Homo sapiens: one gene and its partners. The protein of the gene in region 6 purifies or fractionates together with the protein of the main gene of each other region. This does not show direct contact. Each region holds a gene or a part of one and is shown on either strand. Other genes may lie near its edges.

Region 1 (3,500 bases), on a different chromosome or scaffold from region 6:
GGCTCAAGCAGTCCTCCTGCCGTAGCCTCCCAAGTAACTGGGACCACAGGCTTGCCAACATATCTGGTAATTTTTAAAATTTTTTTTGTGAAGATGGGGTCTCCCTGTGTTGTCCAGCCTGGTCTCAAACTCCAGGGTTCAAGGGATCCTTCCGCCTCCGCCTTCTAAAATGTTGGGATTACAGTCATGAGCCGCCATTCCTGGCATTAATTTTGAAGTAGTTTATAAAATATGGTCACAGCAAAAGAAGTAAATGTAAGTTACTTAGATTTTCCAAAAGCCTTTGATAAAATTCCAGTCAGCAGTTGGAGGGGAAAGCACATTATGTAATAATAACTGGGAAAATGACTTTTAAGAACATGAAAAATAGGCTATGCATGGTGGCTCATTCTTATGTATAATCACAGCACCTTGGGAGGTTCAGGTGGGAGGACTGATTGAGCCCAGGAGTTGGAGACCAGCCTGGGCAACACGGTGAGACCCCGTTTCTACAAAAAAAAAAAAAAAGGTAAAAAAAATTTTACAAAGAACAGGAAGAATAAAATTATACTAATAAAGAAATTTTATTTTTTTGTACAGAATTATAAATAGTGATCTTTTCAGTGTAGCTATTTGAAATGGTCCTATTTAACATTATTATAAATGACTTGGAATTGAATGCATAGTGATATCCCAGTTCTAGGAAGGACTGTATTTACTTAATAAAACGCCAAGGTAATAGGGATAAACTTGATGAGTACTTCATATGGATTGATTTTTTTTTTTTTGAGATGGAGTTTCGCTCTTGTTGCCCAGGATGGAGTGCAATGGCACGATCTTGGCCCTTTGCAACCTCCGCCTCGCAGATTCAAGCAATCCTCTTTCCTCAGCCTCCCAAGTAGCTGGGATTACATGCATGTGCCACCACACCTGGCTAATTTTTGTATTTTTAGTAGAGACGAGGTTTCACCACGTTGGCCAGGCTGGTTTTGAACTCCTGACCTCAGGTGATCTGCCCGCCTCAGCCTCCCAAAGTGTTGGGATTACAGGTGTGAGCCACTGCACCGGCTGTATACTTCAAATGGATTTGTGAGTCAAGTATTTCCCTGCTTTTTTTTTTTTTTTTTTTTTTTATTTTTTTTTTTTTTTAAGGAAAAGATTATCCTGCTGGGCACGGTGGCTTAAGCCTATAATCCCACAACTTTAGGAGGCTGAGGCGGGCGGATCACCTGAGGTCGGGAGTTTGAGACCAACATGGAGAAACCCCATCTCTACTAATACAAAAATTAGCCAGGCGTGGAGTTTCATGCCTGTAATCCCAGCTACTCAGGAGGCTGAGGCAATCACTTGAACTGGGGAGGCCGAGGTTGTGGTGAGCCGAGATCGCTATTGCACTTCAGCCTAGGCAACAAGAGCGAAACTCCATCTCAAAAAGAAAAAGATTATGCTTTTGAGGATGCTTATTTCGTATCCTTAGAATGGTGGGTTTTCAGATTTATTATTACTTTTTTAATGCTGTAGAAAGAGAGTTTATGAAGCTAGACATAGCTCCTGAAATGTAAGAAACTGGCAGAAACAGTATTGGGAGTAACTGCACAGGAAACTTTTTGGATTTGTGAATTAAGATTTTTGTGGGCCAGGTGCCGTGGCTCAACGCCTGTAATCCCAGCACTTTGGGAGGCCAAGATGGGCGGATCACGAGGTCAGCAGATCAAGACCATCCTGGCTAACATGGTGAAACCCCGTCTCTACTAAAAATACAAAAAAAATTAGCCGGGCGTGGCGGTGGGCGCCTGTAGTCCCAGCTACTCGGGAGGCTGAGACAGGAGAATGGCATGAACCCAGGAGGTGGAGCTTGCAGTGAGCCGAGATCGTGCCACTGCACTCCAGCCTGGGCGACAGAATGAGACTCCGTCTCAAAACAAAAAGAAAAAGATTTTTGCTGATGATCCACCCAGGTTGGCTTTCTTCTGCCCTTAGCCCCTGTACCTCTAGTCATGCCCTGGAGCTTTGCTCTGGCTCTGATTGCAAGGAGTATATCCTTCTTATTAAAAGAGAGAGAAGCCTGTTAGCATTTAACGAGGCTATCTGATAGCACCAGAATAGAAGGTAGTGAGTAGTTAAAAAGTGAAATTTGAAGAGGAAATTCCTAGCCATTTTGCCAGTTCTGAAGGTTTTCTATAATTCTTCCCTTTTATTATGATAAAGACTTGAAATTTGGGGTGAAGTGAATCTCAAATCAAAAAAAGAAACTCTCAAATCAGTTTGTCCACTCTTCATGTATAGGTTAATATATATTTTCCCCTCCTTTTAACTTTTATTTATTTATATATTTATTTATTTATTTTTGAGATGGAGTCTCACTCTGTCACCCAGGCTGGAGTGCAATGGCGCCATCTGAGCTCACTGCAACCTCCACCTCCCAGGTTCAAGCGATTCTCCTGTCTCAACCTCCCAAGTAGCTGGGACTACAGGCACCCGCCACCACACCCAGCTAATTTTTGTATTTTTAGTATAGACAGGGTTTCACTATGTTGGCCAGGCTTGGCTTCAACTGTTGACCTTATGATCTGCCCGCCTCATCCTTCCAGAGTGCTGGGATTACAGGTGTGAGCCACCGCGTCCAGCCTTATCTTTTAAGTTATATCTTTTTTTATTTTTTTGAGACCTGGAATCTCTCTCTTTCCCCCAGGCTGGAGTGCAGTGGCTGCGCGATCTCAGCTCACTGCAACCTCCGCCTCCTGGGTTCCAGCAATTCTCCTGTCTCAGCCTCCCGAGTAGCTGGGATTACAGGCGCCTGCCACCACACCCAGCTGATTTTTGTATTTTTAGTAGAGACGGGGTTTCACCATCTTGGCCAGCCTGGTCTTGAATTCCTGACCTCACGATCCACCCGCCTTGGCCTACCAAGTGCTGGAATTATAGCCATGAGCCACTGTGCCAGGCCATATCTTTTTATTTCTTATCTGTTAAGCTTAACAAGGACAGAGATTCCCTTTTCTGTATATTCTCTAAAGCAGTTTCAGTAAACTTATTGAATGAATGGATGATCTGGTAGTTATCCAATATAGAGATATTCTTTCAAACATTTTTATATATATTTATTTTTTAGAGACGGGAGATCTCGCTCTGTTGCCCAGGCTGGTCTCAAACTCCTGGCCTCAAGCTGTCTTCCCACCTCAGTCTCCCAAAGTGCTGGGATTGCAGGCATGGGCCACTGCACCTGGCTAGTATAGGGATATTCTTTTGGATGTCATGACCTTTTTCAAAATCCACTGATTAATTTGAAGTTGTTGATCCTTTTTAGAGGATTGATTTTAGGCACATTTTGGAATCAACAGATTCCAGATTTAATATCACCTTTTAACATACTAATTCTAAGTTTAGCTGTGATGAATCCAAATTTAAATGTGAGAGGACTTAATACATTAAATGTGGCCTAATAATCAATGTGGCATTGATATGTTATATATCCTGTCAAGTCCTCAGGCATTTTTGTATGTGTGTGTGTGTTTTTCTTA
Region 2 (3,500 bases), about 67 Mb from region 6:
ATTGGTTTGTTTTTTTTCTTTTTTTTTTTTTGAGACAGAGTTTCACTCTTGTTGCCCAGGTTGGAGTGCAGTGGCGTGATCTCGGCTCACTGCAACCTCCACCTCCTGGATTCAAGTGATTCTCCTGCCTCAGCCTCCCAAGTAGCTGGGATTACAGGTGTGCACCACCATACTTGGCTAATTTTTGCATTTTTAGCAGAGATGGGATTTTGTCATATTGGCCAGGCTGGTCTCAAACTCCTGACGTCAGGTGATCCATCCACCTGGGCCTCCCAAAGTGCTGGGATTACAGGCGTGAGCCACCGTGCCCAGCTTGTCGGTTTGTTTTGATCTTGCTTGGGGTTTGTAACACATTTTACAAATCTATCTTGATGGCTTTTGTCAGTTTTGGGAAATTCTTATCTTTTATCTCTTTTGCTTAGTTCCTCTTTCCTCTCTCGTCTCCTTGCTTTCCAATTACACTTAGTTTAGGGGTTTTGTTTTGTTTTTGCTATATCTCAAATATCTTTTACACTCCTTCTTGTGTATTTTTATCCTTTTGTTTTTCTTTACTTCACTCTGGATATTTTATAACAGTTTTCTAATTCTCTTTTCAATGGCATCTAAATGGCCTTTTTAACCTTTCAATTGAGTTTGTTTTACAGTTATTTTACATTTTATTTCTGTAATTTTCATTGAATTCTTTAAAAAAAATCCAATTTCAGGTAACTATTGCTGCATAATGACCTACTCCAAAATCCAGTAGTTTAAAACAACTACCTATTTAGTTAGTGATTCTGCTAGTTGGCAATTTGGGCTGGGCTCAGCTAGGTGGTTCTTTTGGTTTCCTCTTGCATCAGTCATGCATGTGTGGTCAGCTGCCAGACTGGCCACGGGTGGCTGATTCATTTATTTATTTTTTATTGTTTTTTGAGATTAGGTCTTGCTCTGTCATGCAGGCTAGAGTGCAGTGGCATGATATCTCGGCTCACTGCAAGCTCCATCTCCCGGGTTCAAGCAGTTCTCGTGCCTCAGACTCCCAAGTAGCTGGGGTTACAAGTGTGTGCCACCATGTCTGGCTAATTTTTGTATCGTTAGTAGAGACGAGGTTTTACCATGTTGGCCAGGGTGGTCTCGAACTCCCGACCTTGAGTGATCTGCCGGCCTTGGCCTCCCAAAGTGCTGGAATTACGGGCATGAGCCACCGCACCAGGCCAGGGCTAGCTGATTTAGAATGGCCTTAGCTGTGTTGGCTTATCTCTGTATCATGTGATATCTTATTCTCCAGCAGGCTATTTTAGGCTTGTTCACAGGTCAGCCAGATGAGGTTCCAAGAGAACAAGTAGAAATGTGCAATGCCTTTTCAGATCTAGGCTTAGAACTAGCAGAACATCATTTTTGCTGCGTTTCATCATGAAGACCAGCCCAGTTCCAAGAGACAGGGAAATGAACCCCATTTCTTGATAACAGAAGGAGCTGTAAAGTCACATTGCAAGGACATGGTATTTTTGCATTCTATCACGCTAGTTCTCTGCTGAAATTCTTAAACTTATGTTTTATTTCCTTGAACATATTAGACATGATTACTTTAAAGTTTATGACTGACAACTCTATTATGTAGATGCCCTGTTTGTTGGTTTCTGTTGTCTCTATTCTTCTGTTGGTTTTTGGAGATGTTTCCTTTTCTTATACTTCACTTTGGATATTGTGTATGAAACATTCTAGGAATAATTTAATGCTCTGGTTGATGTTATTTTCCTCTAGTCATAACTTATATTTGCCTCTAGTTGGCAGCCAGGTTAGGGCTACCAGAGATTCCAGATCATTAGTTCAATCCAGGGTTGTGATGATTCAAAATTGAGCTTCAGTTCCTGTGAGGGCTGTTCATTTCTCGTTCACTCTTACTCTTTGGGTATAGCCCTCTGTGGTACCAACCTCAACACTGATGGATTTTATGTATACCCGCTTTCTAATAGGAGGGACGTGAACTTCATGTTCTCTTAGTTCCTTGAGTTTTATTGTGAGCTCTGCTCAGCTTCTCAGCCTTTTAGCTGCCATTTATGGAATCAGAAGATGCCTCCAGGGAACAACAGTCAGAAATGCTGATCTCACCTCTCTGAATTTCCTTCTTCCAGATATTGGCCCCATAATTTTTCACTGCTTTATAAACTCTCTGATAACTTTAACAATGTGCTTTTACATGTTGTTCATTTTTCTTCTAGCTATTTTTAGTGGGAGGATTGGTTAGCATGTCTTAACCTGGATTTTCATTACATAATTAGAATTCCTTCGATGATTTTTTATCTCAACAATTAAGGGGATGCTGTAGAATGAAAGTGTTCTGTTTCCAGATCACAAACTCTCTGGAGTCAGGAATCATGCCTTATACATGAAGAGGCCCTGCCTCTTCAGGGGCTGGATTGCAGTGGGACTCAGTAAGGACTGAATAATTGATGAAGACAGTATATGTCCTCCTTGTAGGTTTAGTAATGATTTTTTCCATTCACCTTTGTTCTCAGGGTCTTTGTGCAATATTTGGTAGGTTGACTTGTTCTTATAAATAGTGCTAGGATCGTAGGAGACAGAGACACAGAGATGCACAGCACAGTCTCTGCTTTTGAGAAGCTTTTGGTTTGCTAATGGGCAGAGCCAGTACAAGTCATATAAATATAAATGGGAACCTATGTGTTTTAGTCTTAGGAGCATCAAGATCAAAGAAACATATTTCATCAAACAAATAGTATTACAAGTCCTTTAATTATTTACTTAGTCTCTTGAGAAAATGCCAGGGTGAAGCTGTGGCTTGGAGAGACTGCATTCATAATGCACTGGACATATAAAAACCCCTCTGTCTCAATTGCTCTCTTCTTAATAGCCTCCATTTTAACGGAGCCACTTGTAAAACTCTCCCCATCTCTTATTTTCTCTTCCAAATCCTCCCTGAGCCTCCCCAACTCACCCAGAGAGACTTTTTAATTTCCTGCACCTGCTGGGCCATGCCACATAGCTTTATTACTAAAAATGGCTGTAGGAACTTCCAGTTTTGTACACTGACTGCACAGAATTGCTCTAGGTTGTCACACCCCCATATTCATTAGGTTTCATCTTGATTCTTTGAGAGGCAAGTGCTGGGATCTGCCTGGGAAGTGTAGTTTTATTTTTAAAATTGTTTTCTAGGGAGAAATTTTTGTGGAGACTTTCTGATCACTGAAAAACTGGCAAACATCAATAAGTAATGACCAAAATCCAATGAACCAAGTGCCACGAGAGAGGATTATGTATTCAGCTCTGTGAGAGGATGGTTGAGGGGCCATGAGTTCAGCTTGGACGGTTAGTCTTCCTGGGCCTGACCATTCAGAATTTCCAACAGTCACTACTTGCCATTAGTAGTTGCCTCAGCACTGCTTGGAGGGAGTCACCTTAGATGTGGTATTTATAGCATCATGGTTAAGAATTTATCCTCTCAAGCCAAACTGCTGTCTTTACAAAGAGTAAACAAATAAGCTCCCTAGCACCTGTGC
Region 3 (3,500 bases), about 120 Mb from region 6:
GGAAGCTGTGGATCGGAAAAGGACCACTTTTATTCTGATGATGACGCAATAGAAGCTGACAGTGAGGGTGATGCTGAGCCCTGTGACAAAGAAAATGAAAATGATGGAGAATCAAGTGTTGGGACTAATATGGGCTGGGCAGATGCTATGGCTAAAGTCCTCAACAAGAAAACTCCTGAAAGTAAACCTACTATTCTGGTCAAAAATAAGAAGCTGGAAAAGGAAAAAGAAAAGTTAAAGCAAGAAAGACTAGAGAAAATAAAACAGGTATGTTCCACCAGTTCTCTTGTAGATTAGATTGTTTGTCTAGGCTAGCTCTTATCTTGACCGAACTGTTTCTTGCAGTGTTTGACCAATTAACGTTCCAGTTTTTAACTTGTTTTTTATGTGAAGGTGGATAACTAAGGTTATGTTTAGGAATTTAGTCTAAATTATTCCATTGAGCATGTTCACTTTTTAATCATCTATGCAAAGGCAAAGTAATAGAAATGTAAACGCTGAGGAAACATCTTTTTAAAATCAAGTAATTATACACATGGTAGTGATTCCTGAGCCTATTTTATTTGTTTTAGCTGTCTGTTTGCTGACTTTATTAGGTTGTGAACTAAGAAGCATGTTAGTTACTTTTTTTTTTTGCCAAAACTTATTTTACAATAGGAATCTGTGACAATGTCGTAACTCAAGGATTGGTTGTAGTTCTGAAAACGGATTATTTCAGTGTTAGATACAAATCAGTGTTGGATAAATTTGAATTCATTATGCTTTTGTTGAACTACTGATGATAGTTGTTAGACTAGGTATAATCTATTAATTAAAGGCCAAAAGTTGTACATAAATTTGTGGTTTATTATAAAAGCTAAAAATCCATGATAAGGCTTTCATATCACCTGTACTTGATGATCTCTGTCTAAAATACTTGGTTACTAAATTAAGCATGTTTTTTAATTAAAGAAAAATAACTTTCTACAAATGTACTGGCAGCATAGAAGTACTAATTCCCAAAGTCACTTCATAGGTAAAAATGAAAGAAACATAGGTTTGAACTGACATATATTTCCTTTTATGTTTACCATCTCCTTTTCTTGTTTCAAGATGAATGTTTTCTTTGTTCTTAATACTGGTTGCTCTGTGTGAAAGGTGGAAATTTTTAAGTATTGCTCTTAGAAACACAGCATACTCTATTATTAATTCAATATTCTTATTGTACTTTATTTAAGGTAAGTTTTGTCTTTAAATCTTATGGATAGCTTTTCAACTGAAAATTTGAATCTTTGTTTATTATCTGGCAAATGCTAGAAGAGGCTTCAAAAATATCAGAATCTTTGATTTCCTCTGGTCTCAGAGTTCTAGTGAGGGTAAGAACATTTTGAAGCCAAGAGGAATGAGTCTGTAACTCTGCTCTAGGCCAAAGCTTTGAGTGCTAGAGATGATACTGTCTCCATAATGCATGAAAGCACATGTATTGATACCAGAAGCAAGACATGGCAGCTACAAATGCTCTTTGTGTGTATTTCTTAGAAGAGAATATGTAAATTATTATTTCCTAATTTAACTATTATGGTTTTCCAATATATCAGCTACTTATTTCTAATCATAAATACAAAAACAAATTTCAGAGTTAAGAATGTTTCAGGATTAAGCATACATATTATCCTTTGAGTACGGAATATAATTAAGAATTGACTGTTTCAAACTTAAAAGTAAGATTTTAAAAAAAAATTCCTGTCATAATCTGACAGTGAATTTCATGACCACTAAAATGAATTGTCTGGTTAGGAGAATAATCTATTACTTTAGAAAGCTATCAGGCTAATCTTTATAGTGAGCGCAAGAATTTGGTTTTACTGTGATTAGACACTTTCATTAATACAAAATGAGAAATAGAAGAGTAAAGGCATAGATAAAAAAAGAAATTTTAATAAAAACGTTGTCTTTATTACTGGTTTTGATGCTTGCCAGCATTCATTGATTAATGCATTATATCATTATATTTGATATTTGGTTAAATGTTGGCCTGAGAAGGAGACATGAACATGCAATGTATCAAATCAGATTCCTGGGACCAGGATACTATTTAAAGACAAGTTCAAACTAAATTATGTTACCTAGGGAATTTTCTTATTTCCCACCTCCCCTTCTGCTTCTGTACAGTTTGCTGTAGCTTACAACTGATAAACCATATATGGCAAGACTATTGGTCAGATATGCTACGAGAGGAGAAATGGATTTAAATGATTCTCTGCATAGAAAAATAGTCATTGTATAAGTATCTGGATACGATGCTGTTCTTTTAAAAGCTGATACATTTTCTTAATAGTAATTCTGATGACTGAGGAAGTCATTTTCTGAAAGTAAAGATAAACTTATAATTTTCAAAGAGGGTAGTTTGGAATTCTTCCTTATGCTTCCCTCTGATGATCTGGTGATGGCAGAGCAGGCATGTGGCTCCCTCACACCCTATCTTGTACTGCCTGGCCGAATATGCTGGCAGCTCTCCAGGCCCCTGCTGTCAGAGGGCCTGACAGAAACTCACTTTGTGCCTCTCGCATGACACGCTGAGTGCTAACCACAGGCTCTCGAAGCTAAACCCCTAACATTGTGTTTTTTTAAAAGCCCCTGACAAACTAAGCCAGAATGATTTATTACCTTCACCCTTTCACAGAGTATCATACCAATGTTTGCTGCACTTTCAGAAATATCTAATATTCTTTCACATAACAATATTTATAACGCAGCGTGATAAGAGGCTGGAGTGGGAAATGATGTGCAGAGTAAAGCCAGATGTTGTCCAAGACAAAGAGACAGAGAGAAATCTTCAGAGAATTGCAACAAGGTAAGGTAGTGTTTTTGCCCTTTAAAAAATAAGTATACTAAAGCTATCATAGTGGTTCTATTTTTGACCCAATTTGATTCTTAAGCTCAGCCTTCTCAGAGCCAAGTGATATATATCTAAGCCTGCCTGTTCAACACTGAATTCAACCAAAGATTTTCCAGGTCTCGTGAAGCAAGAATATAATGTGCTAAGTGTATATTTGGTAAGAACCTATTTCAGATCATCTTGTTTTTATAGTCACGAGAACTGTGTAATCAGACCTCTTACTGCATTTCTCTTATGATGCTTGTCTAAATTTGTGGCACTCAATGATGGTTTTTATCTTGCATTATATTTATGGCATAATACATTACACATTATAGCTATTTCATGCTATCTTTTTACTCTGCTTATTTATTCATTGGCACCAAACGTTTACTTGATGCCCTCTGTGTCCAAAGACAAACAGGATATGGTGGCTGCTAGGTGGTCCTTGCCTGGTCATCTGTAGGAATTACAGTCTCTTTGAGAGTAGAATTATGTCTATGTGTTGGGAACATAGAACAGGAGATTGTCTGGGAGAGTTTGAGAAGGCATTACAGAGGAGATAACATTTGGGCTGCTGCTAAAGAACCTAGCAGTTATATTTAGCAGAATTACTTTTAAATTCTTGTTACCTAAATTATTT
Region 4 (3,500 bases), on a different chromosome or scaffold from region 6:
ACATAGAGGGGCGTTCGAGAGTCCCAGGTGCCTCATCGTGGAAGTGGAATCACACAGTATTTGTCCTTTTGTGTCTGGCTCATTTCGCTTGGCATAATGTCCTGAAGGTTCGTCCGTGTTGTAGCGTGTGCCAGAATTCATTTCTCTTAGGGCTGAGTAATATTCTAGTGTGTGTATGAGCCTACTGTGTGTGTTCATCCGTCTGCGGATACGTGGGCTGCCTCCACGTTTTGACTTGTGAATAGTGCAGCAGTGAGCATGGGTGTGCAAGCATCTGTTTTGTTGTTGTTGTTTTATTTTTTAAATAGAGATGGGGCTGGAGCCCAGGCTGGTCTTGACCTCGTGGACTCAAGTGGTCCTCCTGCCTCAGCCTCCCGAAGTGCTGGGATGAGAGGCGTGAGCCACCGCACCCGGCCCAAGCAACTGTCTGCTTCCATTTTTTTTGGTATATGCCTATAGGAGAGAAATGGCCAAGCGGCTGCCCACAGGGCTGGTGCCTGTGTTTTTGTGCAGTTCTTCCTGGGCTTCTCTGAGGGAGCAGAGCACGCCTCCCAGAGGGGGCCGGGTCAGCAGGGTTCGCTGGAACCCCACAGCATCCGAGCCTGAACCGACGCCTCTCTCCTTGCTTTGCCAGGTCCCAGCATGCCTTCTGAGACCCCCCAGGCAGAAGTGGGGCCCACAGGCTGCCCCCACCGCTCAGGGCCACACTCGGCGAAGGGGAGCCTGGAGAAGGGGTCCCCAGAGGATAAGGAAGCCAAGGAGCCCCTGTGGATCCGGCCCGATGCTCCGAGCAGGTGCACCTGGCAGCTGGGCCGGCCTGCCTCCGAGTCCCCACATCACCACACTGCCCCGTAAGTCCTGCTTTTGATCACAAGAGGGCTGATCCATAACCTGGAGGGCAGGAGTTTGTTACCTGGACACCACACAGCCAGGAGGACATGAGGTGTAACCCCCTGTAGTCACTCTGGATTGAGGAGCTGGGGGTGGGGCCATGCCGTGTAGATGAGGCTCTGAGAGGCCAAGGCCTCCTTACGCTGCAGCCCAGCGCCTAGGCCAGTGCCTGGCAAGACAGTGGATGCTCAGCAAGTAGTTCCAGAATAAATAAATAAATGTGCCCAGGTCACATGCTTTGCCCGGTCTGTGGCTGCGTGTGCACATTCACTGGAGGTGAGGGACCAGGATCCTGCCTGCGCTCTCTTATTTATTTATTTTTTATTTTTTTGAGACACGAGCTGGAGTGCAGTGGTGCAATCATGGCTTACTGCAGCCTCAATCTCCCCCAGTTAAGGGATCCTCCCACCTCAGCCTCCCAAGTAGCTGGGACTATGGGTGCCCACCATCACACCCAGCTGATTTTTGTATTTTTAGGAGATGGGGTTTCACCCAGGCTGGTCTTGAATGCCTAGGTTCAAGTGATCCGCCTGCCTTGGCCTCCCACAAGTGTTGGGATTACAGGTGTGAGCCACCGCGCCCGGCCCAGCCTGCACTTTTCCGTTAACTCTAGGTCATGAAGACTTCCCGTAGGCATTACATATTTTTCCATAAGGGCTGTTTTTCTGGTGGCACAGACTGTTCGGTGAAGAAGCCATCATTTTGTAAGCCCTCTACGGGGTAGATAGATGTTTGCAGTTACCTCATTTTACATAACTGCAATAGAAGATACGACACATTCATTTAGCCAACAAGTCTTTCCTCAGCGCCATGTGCATTTCGTGCCCTGCTCAAGGCGCAGAAGATCTATCAGTGGAAAAGACAAATCAACAAAAATCCCTACCCCAGCATGAAACTGAAATCAAGCTCACTAAGCCTTAGGATTATCTTTATTTCCTTAGTGTAATCTTGGAGGAGAACAAATAGATCAAAGAATGTGCTTCTTAGATGTTTGATTCCTTTTTTTTTTTTTTTTTTTTTGAGACAGAGTCTCGCTGTCACCCAGGCTGGAGTGCAGTGGCGCGATCTCAGCTCACTGCAACTTCTGCCTCCCGGGAAGCGATTCTCCTACCTCAGCCTCCCTAGTAGCTGGGATTACAGGCATGTGCCAGCACGCCCGGTGGATTTTTATGCTTTTAATAGAGATGGGGTTTCACCATGTTGTCCAGGCTGGTCTTGAACTCCTGACCTCAGTTGATCCACTCGCCTCGGCCTCCCAAAGTGCTGGGATTATGATTCCTATTTTGTGTCCACCACTACCAGCGTTTATGGTTGTTGATTTACAGTTCAGAATGGGTGGGGGTGGCTGGGTGTACTCTCAGTGCAGCAATAGAAAGAAAGAAGTGACAGTGGACAAACCCAGAAGGTCTGAGTGTCAAACATACTCAGTGCTGGGAGCTCAGGAGGCCAAGCAGATGTGTGGGCAGCCAGGAGGATGGGCTCTTGCTGCCAAGACAAACCCAAGAGAGCAGTGGGTGAGAGGCCCGGTGAGGTCGGGAGTGGCTGCTGGAGGGTGGAGTGGGCAGGGAAGACAGGCCCGATTCCTGAGGGCTCCGTGAGCTCCTAACTCTAGGGCATGAGAAGGAGACGATGCCCTCCAGGTTGTAAATGGCGTTGCACCTGCACCTCACATACTGGCCTCATTCATCCTCCGAAGACACCCCCATCCTGAGACGCAGAGCCGACGCCGCTTGTCTCCAGTCGGAGGGCCCCTGAGAATAGTGGCGTTGCGGGGAGGTGCTGCAGAGGTGGGTCAGGAGTTGGAGGTTCATTCTAGGACAGTGGCGTGTCCTCCCAGGAGCCTCTTGGGCTGTGGAAGTGGGAGTCCTTGAGATAAGGGGCTCCAGGGCTATCCCTGCAAGTCACATCCTTTTTCTTGCTAAGCGCTCTGGGCCTGGCCCTGATCACCTCTGCAAACTTCTCAGGTAACTTCACAGCCACCGAGGCCCAGTGCTGAGTCAGCACACCTGCTGCAGGGAGGCGGGACTCTTCCCGCCTGGCTGGCCAGATGCCCGAACTGAATTAATGAACTAATCCCCGGCGCTGTCACCCTGGGGCTTGGCTTTCCACCTGGCCCTGGCTCTCTACACCTGCCAAGCCTGGTTCCCTTCTGCCGAGAACTGCTTCTGAGGGAACCTCCCTGGCCCCTGTACAGTTTGGGGACCTGGCAGGACTGCCTTCTGCTCCCCGGGAAGGGTGCGATTGGATTCCAGCTGCTCTTGTTGGCGCCTGTTTTGGCCTTCAGGGTAGCTCTCCCTGCAAATGTGGCACTCCCTCCATGGCACAGGACCTCTGGGAGCTGGGTTCACCCCAGGTCTAAGGGTCGCCTCCTGGGGGGCAGGACCCAAGGACCCTGGCTGTTCAGCAGGTGACTGTGCTGAAGAGGGGGCCCAGGGTTAGCCACGGGGTGTCATCGGAGCTGCAAGGCCCAGGGAGGGGTTGCGGGTCTGGAGACCGCTGTAAGCCATGCGTGTTCCCAGATGAGTATGTGGTGAGCTTGGTGCAGATAGATAGGGGGTGTCATCAGCATCTCCCTGGGGGAGGATGGCAGGGGCATGAGGGCCATTTAG
Region 5 (3,500 bases), on a different chromosome or scaffold from region 6:
GTTCAGCTTCCTTACCCAAAAAATCCCCTATAGTCTTTTCACTCATTGGTATATTATCTGAAATGTTATTTCATTTTAAAATTTATATATTCAACTCAGTTCCTAATTCTGATCTCAACCACAAAGTTGAGATTAGTTTTAGTTTATGTTATGAAAGTGATTGAATATTTCTTTGTACCCATTCCTTCAGTTGGTCAAGAAATTAATTACAGGTATAGTTTTACAATCAAATATACTTTTCTATATGATAATCTTTATCCCATTAATTTTTATTTTTATTGGTTACAATTTTAAAAGCTTACTTTCTAATCAAACATTCTTTAATTTTAATTCCGCAATACACAACTTGCTAAAATTTATTGGAGGGAACCTTCTACCTTCCCTGAGTGTCACTGTCAACATAGCTTTATATTCCTTTCTGCAACTTCATTTGGGGAGCCGTTGAGTTGATTTCATCCTATGGGGGAAAAAACAATTTCCTTTACAGTGTTATTTTTCTAGAAAAAGCTTAAAATTTTATCATGTTTCTAACATTTTAATGGTGATAGAAAATTAAAACTTCCAAAAGAGTAGGCCTATTGAAGAAAGGTACTCTGCCAGACCTACTGCTATCTGGCTTGGTACATCATTGCATTGCTCTACCAAAGTTCCTGCTATTAGAATTTGCCCGTTTCCTACTGACTGGCTCATTGCTGAAGCCTCTGTTTTTCTTAAACATTGCATTGCAGTCTCCAATTGTGTTATATCTATCCAAGTTTTGACTAAAGAAGGGATACTGTTTTGTGACGTAGAAAGCAAATGGGACTTGCTTCTGGCTACCTAGAAGCTTATTTCAGCAGGAGGTAAATGTACTGAACAATTATAGCTGCATATTTGTTTTCTTGAAGCAAGCAGTAGAACAATGAAAATATAACAGTTATGTTTTGACTTTTTATCTTTCATTTTGCTTTATTTGGTGATTGTGCTATAAAATGCCACTGTAAAGATCAAATTGATTTAGGATAATTAAAATTGATTAAGTTTGTCATATATTTTTAAAATGTGTAAAAAGCTTGAATTATAGCCCACCATCAAATTATAAATCATTAATAAACTGTGAAGGCATTTGCATTCTTTTTTTTTTTTTTTTTTTTTTTTGAGACAGCATCTCACGCTGTCGCCCAGGCTAGAGTGCAGTGGCATGATCACTGCAGCCTCACTGCAACCTCTATCTCCTGGGTTCAAGCAATTGTCTGCTTCAGCCTTCCGAGTAGCTGGGATTACAGGTGCCCGCCACCATGCCTGGCTAATTTTTTTTTTTTTGTATTTTTAGTAGAGACGGGGTTTTACCATCTTGGCCAGGCTGGTCTTGAATTCCTGACCTCGTGATCCACCCACCTCAGCCTCTCAAAGTGCTGGGATTACAGGCATGAGCCTCCACGCCCAGCCTGGCATTTGCATTCTACTTACAATGTTGAGTACTTGTCTTCTGCAAGTTACTAGAAATAACGGAATAAGACAGTCAGATTTTACCATTACTGTCTCCAGTGGAGACAATAATTTTAGGAGCTTTATTAAAGCTTAGAAATACTAATATAATCTATCTGTACTTCCGAAAAGTAATGCCTGACATGTATACTTACTTTTGTTGTTTGTAGTGCTAATCCTCCATCTGGAATTGAAGATGAAACTGCTGAAAATGGTGTACCAAAACCGGTAACATAAGGCTTTGAAATCCAGTTACTGATACAAATCTTTATCAATAGCTTCACAGTTTACATAGAAAGCAAGCTGGCATTTTACATTACCTTCAGTATCAGGTGTTATCTGGCCCTTTCTTACATCTCCTACTTCATCTGGTGCCATCAAAAACATATATAGGAATTAAAATGAGGAAAAGAAATAGTAGAAAGACTGCAGAGGAAAATAGTATGTGCAAAGGCTTGATGTTTATTGCTTTCAAGGAATTGAATGGTTATAAATCTACTGAATATAGTGAGCCTGGTTTTCAGAGCAAGTTTTGAGCCCACAACCTTTCACTGTTACGATTTTTTAACGTTGCTTTTTAATGTATGTGACAGTCCCTGACTGCATGCCTGCATGCCATTGATACTTTGTGAGGTGAACATATCATTGGTCCTATGAATATTTGTGCATTTTAATCCTATAAAAGGAAGGAAGTTATTGTTCCGGAAGTTTGAAGTTGTATACAAAAAAGTATTTTGCCTATGTGATCTACTTATTTACTATGATGTGATTAAGCACAAAATAGCCTTTAAGAGCCAAAGTAAAATCTTCACAAATATAGAATTTGCATGTAGGGCCTCTTCTAGGTATACAAGAATACCAAGAATAACTGAGCTTCTACTTAACTATTTGGTACTTCTTATGCTTTGGGGTTTTTTTTTTTAATTCTTTAATTGATTTGGTACATTGTATTTGTGACACTGTGAATCTTAAAATTGTTTTCCTCTTAGATTCTTTTTTGCCAAGACTTCTCAAATACTTATTTTTTATAATTTTATCTTGTAGGTATCTTAGTAAGTTGCTTTAGATCTTTTTGCAAGAGGGGCAGATATGATAGTTAAAAAAAAAATGAGGTGTTGTTTACCACAAGGAGATGATGCCAAAAAGATTTCATTTCTTTATTCATAGTCTTATCCTTTTTATCCTGTAGAACATCAAAATTATGAGTTGAAATAGGTGGCAGCATTATAAGCTTGTAACTTTTAAATTGTATCTCAAAAAAATACAGAGTGGGGCCGGGCATGGTGGCTCACGCCTGTAATTCCAGCACTTTGGGAGGCCAAGGTGGGTGGATCACCTGAGGTCAGGAGTTCGAGGCCAGCCTGGCCAACATGGTGAAACCCTGTCTCTGCTAAAAATACAAAAATTAGTTGGGCATGGTGGCGGGCACCTGTAATCCTAGCTACTCTAGAGGCTGAGGCCGGAGAATTGCTTGAACCTGGGAGGTGGAGGTTGCAGTGAGCTGAGATCATGCCACTGCACTCAAGCCGGGGCGACAAAGTGAGAGTCTGTCTCAAGACAGAAGAAAGAAAAAAAAAAACAGGGTGGTTACTTTTTTTAGTTATTAGTATTAGATGTTGAAATGGATTACTGAATGTATTTTATAATTTGTTTATGTTCATGTAGAAAGTGACTGAGACCGAAGATGATAGTGATAGTGACAGCGATGATGATGAAGATGATGTTCATGTCACTATAGGAGACATTAAAACGGGAGCACCACAGTATGGGTAAGTTATTTTTTAGTAAGTAACAATTGTGTAAATGCTATATAGTAAGGAGAGTGTGCCTATATCAAACTCTCAGTGGTTGAGTCCATTGTTTTTACATTTTTCTATTTTAACATAAAAGAACTTGTTAAAGTTTCATCATGAATATACTTCTTTGCTAAAATACAGTTAATTGATTAGGCGAAGGTACATAGAAGCAGCAGTTTTTGATGCTGAATTTAAAGTGTTTTTATAAAAGAATTGAGTGCTAGGCCAGGCATAGAG
Region 6 (3,500 bases):
AAAATTAACCTCAGAAAAGTGACACTAATTTACACACCAACCAGATGTAAGTGTGCCCTGAATCCCAAGGATTTTGCCAACTCACTCAATCTGCTTTTCAGTTACACTCAACCCAGTGAGAGCATATGATATTAGATGCCTTAGATGCTCTCCATATCTGATCAACTAATAAAGCATAAAATCCATTCTGTCAAATGAAGGCTGAATGCTTTTAAGTTAAAAAGTGCCATTTTCCCCACCTGCTCCCGGATTTTCTTTCTATAGTCCGAACCCACAGTCCATGTTTTCTCACTTAGAAGCCTCAGTTCCTGCATCTATCCTAAAAAATTCCAATTCCAGGAATGTTCCAGCCCTCCATTCTCCTGCTTTTCTGTTCACTGCTGAAACACATCCACCAACTCTGTGCCTTGACGCCATCCTGACTTTAAGCTACAGTCGGCCCCAAGCACAGCATGCAATCCTTTCTCTGCCACCCAGTCCTTCACCCACATCTCTTAGGCAGTGGTTTGCAGACAGGTGCCCACCAGAGTCACTTTTTGGTCATCGTCTCATCTGAACTTCTTCCACACCTGGGACTGCTGGCCTCTCTTCCCTGGGTTCCAAGGCTCTTTTATTGTTTTGTTTTGTTTTTGTTTTTTGAGACAGAGTCTCACTCTGTCACCCAGGCTGGAGTGCAGTGGCATTATCTTGGCTCACTGCAACCTCTGCCTCCTGGGTTCAGGTGATTCTCTTGCCTCACCCTCCTGAGTAGCTGAGATTACAGGTGCCTGCTACCATGCCCAGATAATTTTTGTATTTTTAATAGAGACAGGGTTTCACCATGTTGGCCAGGCTGGTCCTGAACTCCTGGCTTCAAGATCCGCACACCTCAGACTCCCAAAGTGCCAGGATTACAGGTGTGAGCCACCACACCTGGCCCAAGGCTCTTTTGATTTGCTTTCCCAGGTCCTCCACACATTTATAGAGCATTCTAAGGGACCTGGTTCCTTGCAATTGGACTCTAGGCACCAACATATATTCTTAAATTTCTGAGGGAAAAACTTAGAGCATAATGGAGAAGAGCACAGACTCTGAAGCACAGTTGCCTGGGTCCTGGCTCAGCCCTGCCTGCCACTTCTGCACTGGGCTAGGCAATATCACTGTCCTATGTGTCTTCATCTGCGAAATAAGACTCCTATGTGTATCTATGTTGCTGTGTGATCTAAATGATCTACTAGGAAAAGTGCTTAAAATTATCTTGTATGTAATAAACACTGGAAAGTGACATTTATTATTATTACTGTTCCTAAGAGCTTCATGGGATAGCCACAAAGGTTAGGTTTAGTAATCAGAACTGGGTTCAAATGTATTAAGAGAACAACCTTTGGCATTACTTAGTCTCTTTCAGACGGTTAGTTATGGGTTGAATGAGGATAATGCTATTTACTTTATAGCACAGAACTATTATGAAGATCAAATAGAATCAAACAAATAAGCACAGTGCTTAGCACAGAACAGGCAGGTACCTGGTGAATGTTAGTTCCATTCCTTTTTTTTTTCTTTGAGATGGAGTTTCTCTTGTCACCCTGGCTGGAGTGCAATGGCACGTTCTCGCCTCACTGCAACCTCTGCTTCTCGGGTTCAAGTGATTCTCCTGCCTTAGCCTCCCGAGTAGCTGGGATTACAGGCGCCCACCACCACACCTGGCTAATTTTTTGTACTTTTAGTAGGCGGGGTTTCACCATGTTGGCCAAGCTGGTCTCAAACTCCTGACCTCAGGTGATCTGCCCGCCTTGGCCTCTCAAAGTGCTGGGATTACAGGCGTGAGCCACCATGCCCGGCCCTCCTTTCCTTTTTAGACCCTATGATCACTGATACTTGATTACACATTAAATTTAACATATATGGCTGCAATGTAAAAAACTGGAATTTAGCTATAACAATGTAGAAATGACAATACAAATGGAAGCTTTTCCACCAGCTTAACAACTAGCAATGACAGCAACTAATATTATAAAGAGAAAATAAGTGAATAAAATGATCGCAGTCAAGGAAAGAAAAAAGACATACACATCTCTGTGTTTAATAGGTTAAATGTAGGCCACAGGTAAAAAGCATGTCAAAAAAAAAGTAGGACTCTAAAGTTTTTGAATTTCAGGAGTCTAGTTGACTCTGTATGAGCAGTTAGCTCAATGCACTGAACTACGGAACTGGAAGATACTAACGAATATCACATTGCTCAACACATTTCTACCTTGATTTTAGCTGATGGCAAAACTCAAAAACAAAAACAAAATTCAGAAGGAACACAAAAAACATTATAAACTCCAAGATGTCTTATTATAAGAAAGACTTTTATGAAGAATGACATTCATTTAAATGCAAGATACACTAAAAGGCAACTTTCTCAATGGCTAGCCAAGATTTGTTAACTAATAAAGCTTCATTCTCTGGCTTCCCTCATTGCCCCTCACCTTGGTTTTAATCACGGTTCTACTGGTAAAATTTTAAGCCAGCAAACATATTTTTTTTTTACATGGCTACTCACCACTGAGACATGCATCACATTTTCCTAACGCATTTTGCTTGCGTTCTGATTCCTCAAATGATGTAGCTCGTTCAAAAATTTTGCTTTCACTCTCTGAAGTATGGATATCCTGTTGATGCAAGATAATTTTTAAAATGGAAGAAGTAAAACATAACCTCAAAATAAACAGTTCAAAGATCTTTAACTTATTAACATAAATATTACAAAGTTCTAATATAATTCTATAAAGGTCAAACTCACTTCCTTTGAAGAAAAAAATAGTGACTTCATGGAACGTTCAATGTCTCTTTCTTCTGGTGATAACAGAGGCTTTGGAAAACAGCCTTGATCAACAACACCTATGCTACACATAACATCTTGTGGTTGTAGGGACCCATCGAAGATCTTCTGTGAGTAAGTAATGAGAAACTCTACCAAGCGTGCTTGATTTGAATACTCTGCAAGGGAGGAGATGGTGATAGGAGCAGTTGTGGGCCTTGGCCTAATGAGACTTGGTCCAAATATCACCCCCAAGTTTTTGGAGTTCATCTTGTTTTCTTCTGCATGATCTACTACCCTGCAAAGTAGAACACATAAAGTTGTATGAGATTTTCCTATTAGAGTTCCTTGACTGTAGTTTACTATGGAATAGAGAGGGTGGAGGGAAAATGAGCTGCACAAAAATACTAGGGGGAAAAAGTCTAGGAAAAGGTTATATTTATTTGATTAAAATATTGACCACATGCCAAATAGAGTTTCACAGTTTCACAGTATTGGAATAAATTTCAAGTTAAGTAGAAGGAACTACTATAGTTTTACCAGCAGAAAGAAAAAATACCCCTAAAAACTGCTCCCATCTCAGTATATGGTATATCCTCCCAAGTCCTTATACTGGGAACTTAAACATCATTGTCAGGTGTCTCACTACCCATCTCCAAGTCTAGATGATTCTCCCTTCTGAAGATCTCAGTTCCAACACCATTCCCACTCCTCT
Region 7 (3,500 bases), on a different chromosome or scaffold from region 6:
CAAGATCCACAGGGACCTCAAATCAGCAAGAAAAAAAGATAATAATCCCATAAAAAGTGGGAATATGTGAAGAGAGATTTTTCAAAAGAAGCCATACAAGTGGCCAACAAACATATGAAAAAAATGCTCCACATCACTAATCATCAGAGAAATAAAAATTAAAACCAAAATGAGATACCACCTTACAGTCAGAATGGCCATTAATAAAAAGTAAAAAAAAAAAAAATAGATACTGGCATGGATGCTGTGAAAATGGAACTCTTACTCACTGTTGATGTATTAGGTAAATTAGTACAACTTCTATGCAGAACAGTATGGAGAGTTCTCAAAGAACTAAAAACAGTTCTACCATTTGATCCAGCAATCCCACTAATGGATATCTACCCAAAGAAAAAGAAGCCATTATATCAAAAAGACACCTGCACTTATATGTTTATTGCAGCACAATTCACAAACGCAGAGGTATGGAATCAACCTAAGTGCTCATCAATGGATGAGTGGATAAAGAAAATGTCAGATACGGATATAGAGATATAGATAGATATAGATAGATAGATCATGGAATACTACTCAGTTATAATAAAAGAACAAAATAATGTCTTTTTGCAGCAACTTGGTTAGAATTGGAGGCTATTATCCTAAGTGAAGTAACTCAGAAACAGAAAACCAAAAACTGCATATTCTCACTTATAAGTGAAAGCTAAGCTATGGGTATGCATGGGCATATAGAATGGTATAATGAACACTGGAGACTCAAAAGTGGGAAGGGGATGAGAGATTAAATATTACCTATTGGATACAATGTACACCATTCAGGTGATGGGTACACTAAAAGCCCAGACGTTACTACTATACAATTCATCCATTTAACCAAACCCCTAGAGCTACTAAAATAAATAAATAAATGAAAAGACAGCAGAAAATACATGACTAGCCCACATGAATATTACTAATGTATAGTTACCTATATACAGCATATATTACAAATCTCTTGAGGTCTTCTTTGTATCACTTGAGTTCCTATTGTTGCTATAATGAATTATTCCAAGTTTACTGTCATAAAAGCCACACACATTTATTATTTTCCCATTCTGGAGGTCAGAAATCTGAAATTGGTTTCACTGAGCTGAAATCAAGGCGTCAGCAGGGCCAATTCTCTCTTGAAGGTGTAGGGGAGAATCCATTTCCCTGCCTTTTCCAGCTTCAAGAGGCACCTGCATTCCTTGGCTCATGGTCCCTTTCTTTATCTACAAAACCAGCAACAGAGACTCTTCAAATCTCCCTCTCTCTCTTGGACTCTGACATTTCTGCCTGCCTCTTTCACTTATAAAAACTCTGGTAATTGCATTGAGTCTACACTCAGATAATTCAGGATAATTTCCCCATCTCAAGATCCTTAATCTAATCACACTTGCAAAGTCCCTCTTACCAGGCAGGGTAAGGTATTCACAGCTTCCAGAAAATAGGATGTGGTCATCTTGGAGGGGCCATTATCATGTCTACCACAAGGTATTAATTAAAACATCAGAAGCAGTTTTAAATTAATTTGCCTTGTACTTAATTATTATGTATCAATTTACCTTTGGGTCAGATAATATATGTGAGATTGATTCATTAACTAGAAAATGAAAATAAAATTTTTAATAGAGTTTTTATACTAGTCAATTATTTTCTGCTGAAAGGCCTTTAAGTTGAATGTTAAAATTGTTATTATAAACTTCCATGTAATGGTAGTTGGGTAGCAATAACAATAAACTGATAGTTTTCTGCCTGTAGCAGTATTTTGATGAGACTATTTTTGACTGAAACTCTTATTTTGTATTTAAAAAATCACTGCATTTTATGCTGTTATTTGCTTCACTGAATTATTTAATTTAATATGTTCTATTAAAGAGACTTTAAAGCTAGATACAAATTTTTTCTCCGTATACATTTTTAATATTCACATTTTTAACCTAACGACCTAAAGATAAATTTGAATTTCTCAAACTATTCAACCTATAGTTTTTCCTCTGTAAAACTGCAGTGATACTGAACAAAACTGCTGCAAAGAATAAATAAGATAATGTATCTATAACTGTAGCCAAATTGCTGGGCCATAACAGGTAGGTAGGTCTTCAATAAACTTTTAGCCTGATCCAAAATATATTCCACAAGATTTGCTGACCAATATTGAAACATGTTTCTACAAATACTGCAGATGAATAATACTGTGGGTGTTGTTTCTTAGTAAACTTGCCAAATTTTAAATATTTGGTTACTCTACACAATTAAATAAAATTTTAACATGAGCATCCAAGTAACTCTATTTACTAAAAATGGCTGTTTCTTTACATGATATATGACTAATGAGTGAAGCTATCCTATAGCTATACAAAATGATAACGTTAAGCATTTTTTATTTTGTCTATCTAAAGGTGCCAATACATTGTGAAGAAAATTCTGTTAATTTCATTATATTTAATACAGCATATTCCAACTTAAAGTTATTCAGAAGATCAACTGAAGGCAAATCTAAAAGACAGCAGTGCTTTAAGAAATAAAAGTCATAAAACAAAAGTTTTTCAGTGGTTATAAATTACTTTCAAGTTGCATTATTTCAAATTTCTTCCTGTAATCTCATGTTCCTAGCTCTTTAACTCCCTTTGATTAAATGATGTTCCTTTGCTTTCACTATTTTCTTTTTGTGAACTTGTCAAATCATCTTTGTCTTGTCTTGTACAATTTAAGAGACTTTTATGTAGCTCTCTGAGCGACTATCACCACACAAGTCCAACTGGGAGAATAATTTATGAGGTTCAAAATGAAGGGTCATTATGAATGCTGTCTTTCCCGCAATGAATACATACACTCTCTTGTTCATGCATGACAGGATTTTAACTAAATCAATGGAGATAGATGCTTTTAAATGAAGTATTATGAATGATATCATTGGTTACATAAAATAATTTACTTTTTATGTAATCTTTACCTTGTTTAATAAATTTAGAGAACTGGAAGAAAACTTCTTTAGGTGTGGGTTTATCTGTAACTGTCACATAAGTATTTCTTTGGTAGAAAACACAATTTCAAAAGTTGTAGTTTTATGTCCTTAGGTTAACATCTAGTATCCAGTCATAAGCCAGAATATTATGCATAGTAAGTATTCTGCACAATGATACTAAATGCAGAGGAAAAGCAAAGAGAGTAGATTTTCTCAATTTTGAAGAGAGGTTAATTTTTAAGTGTTTTTACTTTATCAAAGTATTCCTGACTGGTGTTCAGCAATCATTGGTTCTAGTAATGTTTATTTGGCTTTTTCTTATCATTTCAGTGCCCAGTATCTTTTTTTTTTATTACAACAGACAAATCTAATTACTTCTGATTAATCTCAATAGCTGTGATTTGGATTATGAATACTTCCCTTCCAATCTAACTGAAATCATAAATGTTTCCATGTCACCTTATTTTTTATAAGCACATGGTGTAAGGCATACCAAATAAGAAAATATATTAACTTT

What was found.
Region 1: the proteins of ARHGAP29 (region 6) and CCNT1 purify together in Homo sapiens (affinity purification with mass spectrometry, with the first as the bait; one large-scale study listed by BioGRID). This does not show direct contact.
Region 2: the proteins of ARHGAP29 (region 6) and CD244 purify together in Homo sapiens (co-immunoprecipitation; one large-scale study listed by IntAct). This does not show direct contact.
Region 3: the proteins of ARHGAP29 (region 6) and RRP15 fractionate together in Homo sapiens (co-fractionation; one large-scale study listed by BioGRID). This does not show direct contact.
Region 4: the proteins of ARHGAP29 (region 6) and CBS purify together in Homo sapiens (affinity purification with mass spectrometry, with the first as the bait; one large-scale study listed by BioGRID). This does not show direct contact.
Region 5: the proteins of ARHGAP29 (region 6) and FIP1L1 purify together in Homo sapiens (affinity purification with mass spectrometry; one large-scale study listed by BioGRID and IntAct). This does not show direct contact.
Region 7: the proteins of ARHGAP29 (region 6) and SYT1 purify together in Homo sapiens (co-immunoprecipitation; one large-scale study listed by IntAct). This does not show direct contact.

The regions. Positions count from the first base shown.
Region 1 is NC_000012.12:48,710,208-48,713,707, reverse strand, and holds part of CCNT1 (cyclin-T1), read left to right. Parts: intron 1-1,131; exon of another isoform or gene 1,132-1,457; coding exon of another isoform or gene 1,458-1,460; intron 1,461-3,500. UniProt on the Homo sapiens protein: Regulatory subunit of the cyclin-dependent kinase pair (CDK9/cyclin-T1) complex, also called positive transcription elongation factor B (P-TEFb), which facilitates the transition from abortive to productive elongation by phosphorylating the CTD (C-terminal domain) of the large subunit of RNA polymerase II (RNA Pol II).
Region 2 is NC_000001.11:160,842,388-160,845,887, reverse strand, and holds part of CD244 (natural killer cell receptor 2B4 isoform 1 precursor), read left to right. Parts: intron 1-3,500. UniProt on the Homo sapiens protein: Heterophilic receptor of the signaling lymphocytic activation molecule (SLAM) family; its ligand is CD48.
Region 3 is NC_000001.11:218,302,293-218,305,792, forward strand, and holds part of RRP15 (RRP15-like protein), read left to right. Parts: coding exon of another isoform or gene 1-1; coding exon 2-267; intron 268-2,735; coding exon 2,736-2,833; intron 2,834-3,500.
Region 4 is NC_000021.9:43,069,336-43,072,835, reverse strand, and holds part of CBS (cystathionine beta-synthase), read left to right. Parts: intron 1-634; 5' UTR 635-642; coding exon 643-851; intron 852-3,500. UniProt on the Homo sapiens protein: Hydro-lyase catalyzing the first step of the transsulfuration pathway, where the hydroxyl group of L-serine is displaced by L-homocysteine in a beta-replacement reaction to form L-cystathionine, the precursor of L-cysteine.
Region 5 is NC_000004.12:53,380,641-53,384,140, forward strand, and holds part of FIP1L1 (pre-mRNA 3'-end-processing factor FIP1), read left to right. Parts: intron 1-1,637; coding exon 1,638-1,695; intron 1,696-3,132; coding exon 3,133-3,236; intron 3,237-3,500.
Region 6 is NC_000001.11:94,175,085-94,178,584, forward strand, and holds part of ARHGAP29 (rho GTPase-activating protein 29), read right to left. Parts: intron 3,084-3,500; coding exon 2,768-3,083; intron 2,637-2,767; coding exon 2,528-2,636; intron 1-2,527. UniProt on the Homo sapiens protein: GTPase activator for the Rho-type GTPases by converting them to an inactive GDP-bound state. Has strong activity toward RHOA, and weaker activity toward RAC1 and CDC42. May act as a specific effector of RAP2A to regulate Rho.
Region 7 is NC_000012.12:79,280,774-79,284,273, forward strand, and holds part of SYT1 (synaptotagmin-1), read left to right. Parts: intron 1-3,500. UniProt on the Homo sapiens protein: Calcium sensor that participates in triggering neurotransmitter release at the synapse. May have a regulatory role in the membrane interactions during trafficking of synaptic vesicles at the active zone of the synapse.